2 separate regions of the Homo sapiens genome follow, and region 1 is linked to region 2. Evidence: fine-mapped expression QTL. Tissue or cell type: whole blood. Region 2 holds a variant in brackets; the other region holds the start of a gene. All regions are shown on one strand. Distances are from middle to middle.

Region 1 (8,089 bases), 31 kb after region 2:
AAATCTACATCCCTCAAAATTTTGTCTTTTTTTTTTTTTTGAGACGGAGTCTTGCTTCTTCACCCAGGCTGGAGTGCAATGGTGCAATCTGGGCTCACTGTAACCTCCAACTCCCGGTTTCAAGTGATTCTCCTGCCTCAGCCTCCCAAGTAGCTGGGATTACAGGCATGTGCCACCACGCCCGGCTAATTTTTGTATTTTTGGTAGAGACGGGGTTTCACCATGTTGGCCAGGCTGGTCTTGAACTCCTGACCTCAAGTGATCCGTCTGCCTCAGCCTCCCAAAGTGTTGGGATTATAGGTGTGAGCCACCGTGCACGGCTGTCATCATTTTTTCATCAGTCCCATCTTCAATGAAGGTGAATATGTATTATTTCGTGAAATATTTAATAAGAGGCCACTCTGTGCAGCACTCTTCAAGGCATAGAAGATACAACGGTGAACAAAGTAGACAAAAGATTCCTGCGCTCTGGTGGAGCTGACATTCTAGCCATGGAGAATGGGTAATCAACAAACAAATACTGTACATAACGACAATATAGTGCAACAGATGCTGATAGTGAAAAATAAAGTAAACCCAGGAAAGGAAGAGGAGAGCTGTGTAGGTGGTACAGGAAGAGTGCTCAGGGTCTCACGGTACCTTATTGGGAATGGTCAAAGGTGCCTGGAGGAGCCACAGTCCCAAGCAGTAGACTCTGCTCTCTGGTTTCCTTTCTGTATCTTAGCCTTATCATCTTCACTGCCCTGTTAACACTGTGATACTTTCAAATATACTTTTTTTTTTTTGGTCACCTATCATCCCAGATAGATTTTAATATTTTGTCCAACTATAGCTTAAAGTACAATTTGCAGCAGGCACTATAGTGAGGGAACGGGGAAGGTGTGTAGACTGACCAAAAATCCTGGTTACGATGCTTACTAATTTTGTTACCTTAGGCAAATTATTAATCTCTGGGTGTCTTGGTTTCCTCATCTGTATAAGTGAGGATAATAAAAGTAAGTTCTCATTTCATTTTATAGGTTAAATATTTAATGTAAAGTGCTCAGACCTCAAACATTAAGTGTTAGCTATATTTTTCTTCCGTGTGTTCTTTTCTTTTTTTTTTTTTTTTCCTTTTTTGAGATGGAGTTTAGCTCTTGTTGCCCAGGCTGGAGTGTAATGGCGCAATCTGGGCTCCCTGCAACCTTCGCTTCCCAGGTTCAAGTGATTTTCCTGCCTCAGCTTCCAAAGTAGCTGGGATCACAGGCGTGCGCCACCACGCGAAGCTAATTTTGTATTTTTAGTAGAGACGGGGTTTCACCATGTTGATCAGGCTGGTCTCCAACTCCTGACCTCGCGATCAGCCCGTCTCGGCCTCCCAAAGTGCTGGGATTACAGGCGTGAGCCACCGCGCCTGCCCCTTCCATGTGATCTTACCAGAGCTTAAATACTACTATTCTATCTTCTCAAAGTCTCACTTCCGCACAATGGGTTGTGACTTCACTGCAATCCCCTTGCAAGATAATTCAGAAATACCTTAAAAGCCAGGCTCAACATATATTAACACTTATCCATGCTAGAAAGAATTCATACATCCCAAACCAACAGTAACCTCAATCACATTTCTCCAATTTCAGTTGGGTTTAAAAAAAATACATCCAGAAAGCCCAAGTTAAAAATAAAGAGCACTCTCTTAGTTAAGCAGTGAGGGGAGACTGAAAATTAAAAGTAACTTTTAAGGATCAACAGTTTTTGACAGTTATCTTAAGAAAGCATAAAAGATGAACACCACACTGGTAAAGATCCCTTACCTTACAGTGTTGGGAGACAGAGAACAAAGGGAGGGAGATAATATTTTCATAATGAACTGTCCATTATATTAACCTTGCCAAAGAGTCCAACTACTCATTCAGTGTTGAAGGATGTGAATTTTTACTTGCTTAGTAAAATTTAGGTATCATAAAAAATATTAAAATAATATTTTAACTAGAAGCGAAAGTCAGACAGCTTTAGGGAAAAATCAGAGCGACTAGGTGATTGGCCAGTGCTGATGAGGAAAAGAGCGCTAACCTACAGAACAAAGACTCTCATTTCTAATCTATTTCACTACTGAATCAAAAATGTAAAAAACAGCAACAAAAAGGCCAAGCCTTTCAGTACAAGCATCATGCAACTTCTCTCAATTTCTGTCCATCTCGTTGGGAAACGTCATGTGAACTACGCGGGAGTCCCTATCGTCCCATTTCACTGTCTCTAGGGTTACTTCACTCCTTCAACGACAGTGAACACACGGTGTAAAATGGCTCAGTAGCAATTCTTATTTTATCAGCCTTAGTCGGAAATCTGATTCGGAAACCTCAAGCTCCGATCCACATAAATCGCTCCTTCCTCCCAGCAACTTAAGCTGCGGTTACCGCTAAGTCCGGCTCGGCCCCAGCGACAGCAAGGCACTGGACAGGGCATTCCAGCCTCACCCCACCTCACCTCGGCCCTTCCTCCCACGGTCCCTCCCCGCTCTGGCTGTCTTCACCTCCTACACCTCGGTCGAGGCGCTCATCGCCACCCGCGATCAAAAAGGGTTTCCCTTCAGGGAAAGGGGGAAATGAAGGTTCATTTCTGGAAGAATCTGCGCGCCCGGCAGCCGCAAGAGGAGGGAGGAGGGAAGAGTCGGGAAAGGGGCGGGGAGCTCAGCACTATCCATCAAGACATTAGCGCTAGGGGATCGCAAAGTCGCCTTCGGGCCTCCACTGCAGCCTAGAAATTCTCCCACGCACTCCGGGCTGAGGTGGGAATGTGGAATCCAGGCTCCCAAAAATGAGGATGAGACCGGAACTCCCGACTGCCTCGGTCCCGAGGGGGCGGGAAGCGAGAGGAACAAAGCCAGGGCCACTCATGCCCGGGATGGCCGGGCGACCCAGAGGGACACGGGAGGCCCCCTTACCTGCCGTCAGCAGCTGCATGGCGTGAGTGAAGGACGGGTCGAGCGAGTCCTTCTCGGCCATGAGTTCGGGCAGGTACTTGTTCTCTGGCTCCATCTTGACCGAGGCTGTGGCCGAGGGGGGCAGCAGCGGGGTCGGCGCTGGCCCGCCCACTGTCGCGTCGGGACCCGTGGCCGAGGGCGGCAGCAGCGGTGGCGGCTGCGTGGCGGGCGAGGCCCGGGCGCCCCCGCGGGATCCCCCTCCGCCTCCCCGGGACCGGTGAGGCAGCGGCGGCTGCCGAGACGGCGTCTGACGCACCGAGGGGTGGGCACCGGAGGGGTCCATGGAGCCGCTACGGCCCGAAGACCGGCTCATGCGCGCGGCGGGGTCGTCCCGGCGCTGCATCTGGGAGGATGTGCGATCCAAGGAGCGAGAAAGCGACGCGGCAGCGACGGAGGCCCGAGCGGCGGTTGGCGGGGGTGGCAGAGCGGGAGCGGTAGCGACCGAAGCCGACCCGAGCGACCCAGCGAGAGAGAGCACCGGAAATGAGGCGGCGCGCGTGCGCAGCCAGCCACCGGCACCGCCCTTGGGTTTCTCCGCGGAGAACAAAGTCCCCAGTCCGGCCACGGCGCCTGCGCACCGCCGCGGCGTCCGAGAAGTCGCCTCCCGACTCTGGCTTTCCCTCCGCTCCCGCCAGGCCAGAGCTTGATGCGCATGCGCGGGAGGCAGTGGGCTCCGTTCGTTTCGTTTTCCACGTGACTCGGCGCTAGCGGAACACGTGTCTCCTCCCCTTTCTGGCGTGGAGGGGGCGGGAGCTGTGGAATGTCTTTGTCTGCGCGCGGGCCCGCGGAGTGTGGGGCGGGAGACCTGTTACTCGCGGGGCCACGCCCTCTCCAACGGCTGAGCAGTGGAGGGAGGCTGTGGGGAGTGGGGTGGGGGGCGGTCACCGAAGTAAGGAAGTAAAAGACTGCCGAGAGGGTCACGGAAAGGGGAGGGAGAGAGAATTGAGACCGCCTGGGGAGGAAGACAGGAGTGAGACAGACTGCACAGGGAGAAAGGAAGGCTGAGGGAGAGTCTGATGCAGGGGGAAAGTTGGGGAAGGGAAACCTGGAGGGAGAAATTGAGGAAGGACGGCTTGGTGGAAACACTGAAGGCGATTGGAGTACTTGAACTAAGAGGGATGGTTCAGATCAGAGATCTGAAGTCTAGCAAAGAAAAGGGTCCCAGACATCAGGGAACACAAGAAGTTGTTTCCAGTATATATATTTCCAGTATTACATATATTCCAGTCGGTTCTAAAACGGTTGACATTGTTGGTACGGGAAATCTTAAGCAGCATTTTAGCTCTTTTTACATATTTTACTGCTTTTTCTGAATTGTGTTTGTTTTGTTTCGCCGTCATTATTGCCAATTAAGTGTTTCTTCCTTCAAAAAGTGAGGTAGAGACCAGATCCTTAATCCACGTTGGTTGCATCATTAGGATGGCTTCTTCTACCACTCCAGACTTGCTCAAAGAGACCCTTGCCACTACTCTCAAAGGCAAGGTACATAGTGGACAGTCGCCTACGACGTTCTCCACATCCTGGTGTGCTATATGCAAGTGGAGCCTTAGGTCCCTACTTGTCCCATAAGCCATCAAAAGCCTGGTGCCCTCTCTAACTTTCCCTTCCCTCCGCAGATTATTTTCTTCTTCCATTTAAAGCACTCACTCCCATCTCTTTTCCTTCTGGATTAGTTCTCCTAATGAGCCCACACTTTTCAAAAGTCTTTGGGGACCGGTGCGGTGGCTTATGCCTGTAATCCCAGCACTTTGGGAGGCCTAGGTGGGAGGATTACTTGAGGCTAGGAGTTCGAGAGCAGCCTGGACAATATAATGAGACCTCATCTCTACAATAAAAAAAGTTTCCGCCCGGCTTGGTGGCTCATGCCTGTGATCCCAACACTTTGGGAGGCCGAGGTGGGCAAATCACCTGAGGCCAGGAGTTCGAGACCAACTTGGCCAACATGATGAAACCCCATCTTTACTAAAAATATAAAAATTAGCCGGGTGTGGTGGTGCATACCTGTAATCCCAGCTACTTGGGAGGCTGAGGCAGGAGAATTGCTTGAACCAGGGACGCGGAGGCTGCCGTGAGCCGAGATCACGCCACTGCACTCCAGCCTGGGCAACAGAGCGAGACTACGTCTCAAAAAAAAAAAAAAAGGAAAAAAAGGTTTATTTGGAAATTGTCTTCTGAGTGCCTGGAAACTTGATTTTTGGATGTGAAGCTTAGAACCCTTTAACTAGAGAACCTAAAGGCCTTCTTTAAGGGGTTAAGGGAGAGGATTTCCAAATTACCCACAGAAATGAAAACAAAACACGTATCTACATAAATTATATATATATAATATAAAATATAGGCCAGATGCGATGGCTCATGCTTGTAATCCCAGCACTTTGGGAAACCGAGGCGGGCAGATCACAAGGTCAAGAGATCGAGACCATCCTGGCCAACATTGTGAAACCCCGTCTCTACTAAAAATACAAAAATTAGCTGGGTGTGGTGGTGTGCCTGTAGTCCCAGCTACTCAGGAGGCTGAGGCAGAAGAATCGCTTGAACCCAGGAGGCGGAGGTTGCAGTGAGCTGAGATTGCAGCACTGCACTCCAGCCTGGGGGACAGTGCGAGACTCTGTCTTGGGAAAAAAAAGAAAGAAAGAAAGAAATTAGCTGAGTGTGGTGGCGTGCACCTGTTGTCCCCAGCTACTTGAGAGACTGAGGTGGGAAGATTGCTGCTTGAGCCTGGGAAATTGAGACTACAGTGAGCAACGACTGCCCCACTGCACTCAGCCTGGACGACAGAGTGAGACCTTGTCTCAAAAAAAAAAAAAAAAAAAAAAAAAAAAAAAAAAAAAAGGCCAGTGCGGTGGCCCACTCCTGTAATCCCAGCACTTTGGGAGGCCAAAGTGGGTAGATCACCTGAGGTCAGGAGTTCAAGACCAGCCTGGCTAATACAGTGAAACCCCATCTCTACTAAAAACATAAAAAAGTTAGCTGAACGTGGTGGCATGCACCTGTAATCCCAGCTACTTGGGAGGCTGAGGCAGAAGAATTGCTTGAACCCGGGAGGTGGAGGTTACAGTGAGCCGAGATCGCGCCACACTGCACTCCAGCCTGGGCAACAGAGTCAGACTCCGTGTCAAAAAGAAAAAAGAAACGAAAAAATTAAGTGCTGTTGGAGTTCAATGCAGAAGATAGATTTTGGCCAAGGAAGAATAAGTTCCAGGCAAAGGGAAGTGGAATAAATGAGCAGAGATGAGAACGTGGGAAATGTGTTCAGGGAATGGGAGTAATCCAGTGTCAGACTTGAAGGAATAGGTGGGTTGAGAGAGCAACTGCATGAAGAGGGGGGAAGGGGCAAGGAGAATTTACAGTTCCTTTGCAACTCATTTCCACTGCCACCCTTGAAGATCCTTCTTGAGTGGTGGTGTTACAAATGGCTGAAGCGTCCTTGCCCTGTAATGAGATGCCCAAATAGAGATCCCTTGAGCTGAGGCTAATAAAACTTTGATAAAGGTTTGTCTGAGAAGGAGCTGGGTAGTGGTATCTATGGCCTTTCTAGACTAGAATCAACAGTTACTGCATATGTATATCAAAACATGTTGTAGCCATACCTATATACAATTTTAAAAACACTGGAAACAAAACAAAAAATAACCCTCAGTCTTTCTGGGTGCTTGCCAGATCTTTACTTGCTTTCCCTGAGAGTAGGCTGAGCGGGAGAGATGTGCTCTTCTTCCAGGCGAGAACCCTAAAGGTAATCTCAGGCCAAGAGTGGTTGAGGTTGCGGTGTATGTATCCACTAAGTGATGCAGCAGCCTTCTATTTTGGGGGCCCTTCTCAGGGTAGGGAAGAGTAATTTCTGCTCTGAAAGCCTAGAAGTCTGGAGTTTATTTTGTGTTCACCACAGTATGCTGCCCCAGGTCCACCTGAAGGTTAACAACCATGTGAAAAGACTAACGTTGGAGTGGGGCAAATTCAAACAACCCGGCAATGCCTTGTCCTCACTGTGTATCATTTGGAAGACCTCTGAAACTTAGTTTTCTCTTCTATAAAGTGGGGTAATGCCATCTACCTTGAAGGCTTATTGTGAACATTAACAAATATCAGTGTAAACCTCCTGATAGTAGGGCTTATAAACAGAAGTAATCACTATTATACCCTTTAGTACCTGATGAAGATTTGTGGGTGCTTTATGTTGGCTATGGATCTGAAAGTCCTACTCTCTCTCTCCTTTTTTTTTTTTTTTTTTTTTTTTTTGAGATGGAGTCTTGCTCTGTCACCCAGGCTGGAGTGCAGTGGCAGGATCTCAGCTCACTACAAGCTCCACCTCCTGGGTTCACGCCATTCTCCTGCCTCAGCCTCCCGGGTAGCTGGGACTACAGCTCACCACCATGCCCAGCTAATTTTTTTGTATTTTTAGTAGAGACAGTGTTTCACCGTGTTAGCCAGGATGGTCTCGATCTCCTGACCTCATGATCCGCCCGCCTCAGCCTCCCAAAGTGCTGGGGTTACAGGCATGAGCCACCGCGCCTGGCCAAGTCCTACTCTCTAATCTGTATAATTTTCACTGAGTATAGCTAGGCTTGTTTTGGGGGGAGGAGGAGGTTCCAAAAAGAGCAAGTTTCTTCTACCCTTAATCCAGTTACTATGGTATAGGATACAGCAGCAGTGCATAATGGTTCAGATGGAGGTTGGTAGCTCTGCCTCTTACCTGCTGGGTGATTGAGCACAGTGTTTTGCTTTGCTGCATTAGTCAGGATTCTTTAGAGAGACAGAATAAATACAGTATATAGATAGATGTACACATTCAAGAGGGGACTTGTGAGGGCAATTGGTTCACATGATTATGGAGGCTGAGAAGTCCCATTGGAGGCCTTCTGCAAGCTGGAGACCCTGGCAAGCCGGTCGTGTGGCTCAGTCCAAATCTGAGATCCTCAGAACCAAGGAAGCCAGTGGTGTGATGCTTAGAGGATGAAGGCCTGAGAACCCAGGGGCTGCTGGTGTAAGTCCTGGAGTCCAAGGGCTGAAGAGCATGGGGATCTAATGTCTAAGGACAGGAGAAGAAGAGTGTCCTAGCTCCAGGAAGAGAGACAGGAAATCCCTTCTTTGCCTTTTGTGTTCATTCTGGGCCCTAGCCCATTAGCTGGCGCC
Region 2 (8,104 bases):
ATTGGGACCAATAGTATTTTAAAAACTTTCTACCCGGGCTGGAGTACAGTGTTGTGATCATAGCATACTGTAACCTTGAACTCCTCGACTCAAGTGATCCTCCTTCCCCTGCCTCCTGAGTAGCTAGGATAAGAGGTGCAAGCCATCATGCCCAGCTAATGCCCAGCTAACTTTTTGTAGAGACAGAGTCTGCTATGTTGTCCCGGCTTGTCTTGAACTCCTGGCCTCAAGTGATCCTCCCAACTCAGCCTCCCCAGGTGTTGGGATTACAGGCATGAGCTGCCATGCGCAGCCAAGAAAATTTTTAGAGAAGGGAAAGACACAGTAATGAAAATGATCTTCAAATACCTGAAAGGATGTTGCTTCAGAGGTCCAAAGCAGATTCAGTTTAAATTACTGAGGTACAGGTCTCATTCAAAATGAGAGATAAAATACTTAGAGCCATCTCTAATGAAATGGGCTGCTTTTGGAAGTAATGTTTCCTATGACTAGTATGAAGTACTATGTTACATGCTATAACCTGGATGAACCAAACACTATGCAAAGTCAAAGAAGCCAATTCCAAAAAGCATATATTATATGATTCCATTTATATGGAATGTTCAGAATAGGCAAACCCACAGAAAGAGTAGTGGCTGCCAACAGCTGGGGAGAGAAGGGAGTTGGGAGTGACTATTAGCAGATATAAGATTTGTTTTTAGAGTGATGGAAATATTCTGGAATTAAATAGTGGAAATGGTTGCACAGTATAAATATACTAAAAACTACTGCATTGTACACTTTAAAATTGTAAATTTTATGCTATGTGAATTTTTCCTCAAAACAGAAACAAAGGTAGAAAGGGACCAAATGAGATACTTACTAACTCTGTTAGGATATTATGATGCATACAGTGATAAATGTCAGGTATTATCATCAACTTCATTTGATGATAAATGAGGCACTGAAAGGGTTTTGTTTCTGACTAAGGTGACAAAGGCTCACATGAAGCAGAGCCAGGACAGATACCCAATCTTGCCTGTCTCTAAAGCTTACAGAATTGTAATAAAAGTTCACAGGCTGGCCGGGTACAGTGGCTCACGCCTGTGATCCTAGCACTTTGGGAGGCTGAGGTGGGCGGATCACTTGAAGCCAGGAGTTCAAGACTAGCCTGGCCAACATGGTGAAACCACATCTCTACTAAAAATACAAAAATTATCCAGGCGTGGTGGTGTGTGCCTATAATCCCAGCTACTCCGGAGGCTGAGGCAGGGGAATCGCTTGAACCCGGGAGGTGGAGGTCGCAGTAAGCTGAAATCACACCACTGCACTCCAGCCTGGGCAACAGAGTGAGACTCCACCTTAAAATAAATAAATAAAGTTCACAGGTAGTGAGTGATAGAATTTTACAGAAAACACTTGGATCAATGGGCGAAGCTACATGTCCAGAACAGGCAGAACACCAGCAGGCCTAGGTCCACAAACAGAACCTGCCTTTCCAAGCACAGTTCACAGTCCAAATGAAAGGTTTCCCCAAACTTCTAATCCATTTTTCTTCTTCAGACTACCCTAGGAAGAGTTGAGACTAAATTCTCTGCATTCAGGGATTCCCCACGCTAAATTTCCTAGCCATTCATGTGACCAACATCAAACGTAGGACTTGCCAGGTGCCCAGAATCTTGTTCAGTACATATGCCCCTCTCTTAAAGCTTCCAGATCTCTCACAGGCTGAGAGGCAGGCTTGGAAGAAAAAGAAATTCCAAGAAGCCAAATTTCACTGTGAAAGGTTCTATATGCGTAGGGCTTACCTAGTTAGGCCTTTCTCCTCAGTGTCATCCTAATCCTAACACCTCAGAGCAGAGAAAAAATCAGCCAGTTAGTTGCTTAATGGCTTCAATTAACAGGAAAGCTCACTGTTGTCACAGCCCCCAACTACACAAACCAGGGAGTCAAACTCCACATCCTTTCTTCTATACCACAATTATCCCTATGAAGGACCTCCTAAGTATAAGAAATATCCTTTCCCAGCCGGGTGTGGTGGCTCACGCCTGTAATCTCAGCACTTTGGGAGGCCAAGGTGGGTGGATCACCTGAGGTCAGGAGTTCGAGACCAGCCTGACCAATAAGGTGAAACCTCGTCTCTACTAAACAATACAAAAATTAGCCAGGCGTGGTGGCAGGTGCCTGTAGTCCCAGGTACTCGGGAGGCTGAGACAGGAGAATTGCTTGAACCCAGAGGCGGAGGTTGCAGTGAGCTGAGATTGCGCCACTGCAGCCAAGCCTGGGTAATGGAGCAGGGCTCCGTCTCAAAAAAAACAAAACAAAAGAAAACCAAAAAAACCAAAAAAAAAAAAGAAATACCCTTTCCCTAGATTAAGGACAGTATAGTATAGGATTAAGATGACAGGTTTTGGCAACAGAAATCTTGAGCTTGAGTACCAGCCATACTAATTATGGGACCCTGGGAAGTTACTTAACTTCACTAGGTCTAAGTTACTTCTGTAAAATATGGATATTACTGGACAATTGTTTCTGGGCTGCCCAGCATCCATTTCCCTTTCCTAACAACTCACCAACTGCCTTTTGAGGAACTGGTTTTTCTTACGCATGTGACTCAGCTAATCCAGTCTGATATTCCCTCTCTAAAACCTGAATCTTGAGTAGAGGCAGAAAGAGACCCAACATAGTTTGAGTTGTGCCCAAGGAGCCAGTCCTTGTTTCAAGATCGTTCCTGTGGTCTACCACTGTTGTCCCAGTTCCCTGCAGCCACTACAGTTCCCACACCAGATTTTTTATCCTTCGCACTGAACATTGAGCCCTTAACACCTTTCTAATAAAGTCTTTTTCATTTACATTAGCCACTTTGTTGCTTGCAACCAATGAACTCCAAGTGGAACACCACCTCATCAGGTTATTAACAGGATAAACAGAGTGGGATTCAACAGATCTAAGTTGATATTGTCTGGCCTTATCAACCACTAGATGTAAATTCAGTATGGACATGTAAGTGTGGTCATGTCGTAAATAAGGTACAAATGACCACAAAAAAGATTAACCCATTGACCACCTTACAGGCCACCTCCTAGCATAACTGTTTTACAGTTATGATAAAAGGCCCATGTTCCTTAATAGAAAGCCACCTTAACATACCTGACATGGGTCTTCACTACCCATTCTAGTCCAGGAAATGCCTCAGGAGTTTTCAGTCACCTGAAAATGGAGAAATAACAGATCAGTCTTTTGAAGAGGAAGTTTTAAAGACATACAAAATAAAAGATAAAGAGATCCTGCATGCAGTTTACACATTACAGGAGAAACATGCAACTTTTAAGAAATTTTAAGTAAAGTTTCATTGTGAATATCAATATGGGGACCTACAGGGACTCATCCTTACACAGTTTTAAATAGCTGAGCAGAAAGCTTTTGGGGTGCAGCAGGAGGTCTAATCTACAGTCATTGAAATTTTACAATGTGTCATTTAAGATGTCAGACTTTGTGCCCAGGTTACGTTACAGTTCACTTGTGATGGGCAGGATTATTAAGAGTTATGGCTAATTTATGCGGCAACATATGGTTTTTCTTTTTACAGCTATTTTTATTAAACAAGTTTTGCAAAGTTTTAACATTAAAATTAACAGCTAAAGAATTGTTTATGCAAGTTGCTGTCACAGTTTATGTAAAAGAGAAATATGTGCTATTAAAATCAGACATTTAGGTTACCTTTGGTTTTTTGCGATGCATGTTAGCTTTACACATCCTGATTCTCTTGCGATAATTTTCCTTTAAAAAGGGGGGTATAGAGTGATCTCTTTTCATCAAAACAAGACATAATGCCCTGAAAGCTGACTTCAAACCATGGTTGAAAATTCAGTTATTTACATTTTATCACAATCTACAAATACATTTTTTTGTTGGTGTGTTTTAAAAAGAAAAAAAAAATGTCCATCATGCACTGCTGCAGGCAGCTTGGCACTTCAATACAAGAGGATTTTTCACCCCCGAGCAGTTTAGGTGGCTCTCTTAGGGAAGCCATGAGAACCCTGAGAATCAGCATAGAGTTGAAATGGGACCAACCAATTCCATCACTTCCTCTCTTGGTCTCTTAGGAGGGGGTTCAGAGCCAGCCTATCATGCCAAATCCTGCCCCAGCCCAGCTGAGTTATCAGCATTTCTGGGATTGAAAGAGAAACCCTCAAGGGCACCCAGAGTTGGCTGAACTGTCATGCCTAAAGGCAGATGCTGTCCCCTTCTGAGCTCACAGAAATTATTTGGTGTCACACTTTAGAGCCACCTAGGGGTTCTACAGAAGGTGCAAACCAGGCTGGCTTGCACTTTTAAATACTGAGACCTATCTATGGAAACCAATCCAAGTTTCAGCTCAGTTGAGTTGAAAACTCTCCATAAATTAGAATTTTTGATAGGATTGGATACAACAGCTTCCAACAACTTCCAGGGGGTGAAAAAGCTTTGGTTATTTTTAAACTAAAACTTAACAACTCCATCAACTTTTTTTTGGTAAACTTAAAATAAAATCCCCCCCACCACTTTTAAGAATGTTTCCAACTTTTAACAAGCCCATTAACTTTAGAGTTAATTTAAGTTTATTTGAAAGAGAAAACTATTTTATGGTCCACCCAAAAAAATGACAATTCATCACATTTACTTTGATTAAAAAAGGACTAAACTTTATTGACAAACTGCTGCAGACATTTTGACATAAGTTTAAGCTACCTATTTAG[G/A]CAGACTTACACATGTAGCATTTAATCTTCCGAGAACAAAATGGGAGGACGGTACAAATCCAATTAGGACTTTAACTTATGTACAAAGTGGATTTTGATTCCTTTTTCATTCAGCTGCAGTGTCCCTTTTTATATCATGCTAGTGTTGAGACATACTTGACTAACTTGGGAACAGTTCGATATATTGACAACCGTCAACTTAAGAAAATCAACAGCTTTTGGCCCCAGCGTCCAAGTGAACTTTTCATGGAGTGCAGAATCTCAAATGGACAAAATACTTTGTCTTTTTAAATACTGAAAATTTAATTATTAGTACTATGACTGAAAGATTCTTCATGGCTAAAAAGCTCTGCATCAAACTCAATTCAGGAGGCCTTCCCTCCCCACCACCATCAACCTCTTCAAAACCTACTCCCTCCCTCTAAGTATCTCTCAACACAGTATGTCTGGGGCTAGATTTCAAAACCCACGTAATGAAAAAGTCAGTTTTACAAGCCTAATTTTGTTGTTTTTTTTTTTATATCAATTAACGTTAAAAATTGCATCAACTATTTAATTCATGAGGATCTTTCATATTAAAATTTAACCTTAAGATTCAACCGCCATGTGCTTTTATAAAGGAAACATTTTTTAGAGACGTCTGAGCTCACTTTTACATGGTGGTGCCTACTGCCGTTAATGTTTGTGATTTTAAATCTTAAACAGCCCTGAATTTTGAAATGTAGCCTAGTTTGGGATTCTGCAACTACAACTTTACGGGATGCCTCAAATCAAAACTAAGAGAAACTTAACAAGCCTTTACTTCAGAACCTTTAAGCAAGCAATGTCATTTTTGAAACTAACAGGTTTGTGTGTTTTTTTTTTTTACTCAACTTCTTTTTTTTATTATAAAAGGTACACTTCTGTTTATATTTAAACAACAAAGAAAAAAGCATCTACACACTTAAAAAATTAATTCAATATTCCTAAATCTATTTTAACTCATTTTAAAATACTACATACAGAAGCCAGAATGCAGAGTTAAGAATGGAATAAGGTGGGGAGAAGAAGGGGACCACGAAGAAAAACACTTAGACAATTACTTGTCTGTTGTGGGTAAAGCAACAGGAATCCTGGGAGATACAAGAAATCAGTAACAACTTTGCTCATAACTGATATTTTCCCCTCATGTTTGTTTTTAATAACGTCCATATGGGTGCTCTCTGTATGCTCCCTTCACTGGCCTAGCAGGAGGGGCCTTCAGCGACGGCCTGGTCCCATTCCAGTCGTCCTGGCCTGTGGGGAAAACAAAGACAGTTTATAAACCATGTGGCGACAGCACTTAGGGATAAGCAGGGATAGGTCACATAGTAAAGATCACCAAAAACACTGAGTTTCTTCTAATGTCTTGACACTTCCCCTGGTGTTCCTTGCTCTCTACTTGGCTTGGCCCTCTTGGGCAGCCTGGGCAATTTTTCAGTTTTGAGTGGAAGGACAGAAGGGAACAAATCTAAAAAGGCTGCCATTGACTCTGGAGTAATCTCCCACAACGAGGTTCTTCATAGACAAATGTGATCTGTACGCCAGTCCCCAAACCTGGAGATACCCAACACCTTGCTTGAGATAGTGAGGAACTCATTAATCTTAGTGAGTCTGCAATGGCCTTTCCTGTTCCCAAAACAATTTGGCAGGCACCCTCAGGTAAGGTGGGAAGACTTCTGGAAGTCTTTCAGATTGGAAGCAGGCAGCCAGCCCCACTTCCATGCAACAGCAAGTCACGTTTCCTTACGGAGAAGTGTCCTCTAGCTCCCTGGGAAAACCAAGCAAGGGCCACTTTCCATGGGGCCCTCCACCAGCAGAGCTGATACTGCTCTCTCTGGTAGAGGGATGTGCAATCAAATGTTGCACTGACAGCACTGTTTAAGATAATTCCAAGGCTGCATGCGGTGGCTCACGCCCGTAATCCCAGCACTTTGGGAGGCCAAGGCAGGCAGATCACAAGGTCAGGAGTTCGAGACCAGCCTGACCAACAGGGTGAAACCCCATCTCTACTAAAAATACAAAAATTAGCCAGGCGTGGTGGCGCATGCCTGTAATCCCAGCTACTCAGGAGGCTGAGGCAGGAGAAGTGCTTGAACCTGGGAGGCAGAGGTTGCAGTGAGCTGAGATTGTGCCACTCCACTCCAGCCTGGACAACAGAGCCAGACTCCATCTCAAAAAAAAAAAAAAAAAAAAAAAAGGATAATTCCTTATCTCCTTTCTTAAGTCAACAGGTGAGAGAAGCCAGAAGCCAGACAATGTGGTTCACATCCTCAAATGGTTCTCCTTTGTGACAGGGAAAAGCCTGAGGAATATGATCACATAATTCTAGAGGTGACCTCTTATGAAAATAAATTGCGTTAAATTTATTCTTCCCACACCTTACACACGCTAGTTCATCCCTGAAGTATTTTTCCAGCTGCCTGTATTCACAAGTATCTGCCTCCATCTCTATAGGCCTCAAACTCCTATACAGATCTAAAGTCACACAGAACCCTAATTATACCCCTAGTATAACACACATGTCCATCACTTTCCAAGTGGCTTCTGGGTATCAACAAGACAGTTTCTTTTTCTTTTTTTCCTGACGTATACAGATCATCCTGGACAGTTTATTTCTCTAATTCTGTTAATCAAAGCAGAGATCAGAACGGATTAACTGTGGCAACGTCGTATCAGGAGCACAAAGAGAAGCCTGCCTCTTTCAGTTTGGTCTTTTCTCCAGCAAAACAGAAATGCAATTTAGTCAAACACATACAGAGGCCCCACTGTACTGCCTCACTGATGGAGGGAAATACTTGGGTGCAATCACACACAGTGTTAGTGATTGGCAACTGTCCAGTGCTATTTCGCTAAAACTGGTAAAAACAGTTTCCTTGGGCAAGCAGCTGATTGGCTACTTCATACTGTGCTGAGTTGGGCTCAGCTTGTCTGTCTCTGGGAGGCCCTAAGGGGCTCCTCTTTTTCAGCTAGGGATAAGGGGAGACTGTCAACCAGTATCTTAGCGTGAACTGTCAATCGCTGAGCCCCTGCCAAGGACTCTCTGGAAGTCCCTCAGGTATGCTGAAAATACCTTATACTGAAAAGGTAGCTCTCGCTGCATCCACTGCCACATAGTATTCCCAGTGAGGCCTATTAACACAGGGCCATAACTGGCTCTTGAGGACACACTTGAGCGATGTGTTTTTAACCAAACCTCAGGGAAGGCAGCCTTGTCCTGCTGCTGTTGCAGCCTCCATAGCTCTCTTGGGATCAAGGACTGTGTTGATGTCTTCAAGCCAACAAGGAGCTTGGTGCCAGTACTGTCCTGAATTATTGGCTCTAGCCCCTACAGCCTCTAATCTGATTCTAATAGGCACTATTTTTTT

The links. PIP is the estimated chance that this variant, and not a neighbour inherited with it, causes the effect.
Region 1: it holds the start of KHDRBS1, and the variant in region 2 is fine-mapped to the expression of KHDRBS1 in whole blood (TOPMed, PIP 0.90).

Annotation. Positions count from the first base shown.
Region 1 is chr1:32,009,209-32,017,297 of GRCh38, reverse strand. It overlaps KHDRBS1 (KH RNA binding domain containing, signal transduction associated 1), which reads right to left and starts at 3,430. Exons shown (of 9, transcript NM_006559.3): 1 at 2,921-3,430. The coding sequence starts at 3,302. RefSeq lists silencers at 2,422-2,531, 3,012-3,221 and an enhancer at 2,625-3,195.
Region 2 is chr1:32,040,416-32,048,519 of GRCh38, reverse strand. It overlaps KHDRBS1 (KH RNA binding domain containing, signal transduction associated 1), which reads right to left. Exons shown (of 9, transcript NM_006559.3): 9 at 4,643-5,993. The coding sequence ends at 5,896. Among named protein-coding and RNA genes, the nearest start is that of TMEM39B, 28 kb to the left of the region's middle. RefSeq lists an enhancer at 3,208-4,091. The variant G/A (reference allele first, on the strand shown) is at 4,719.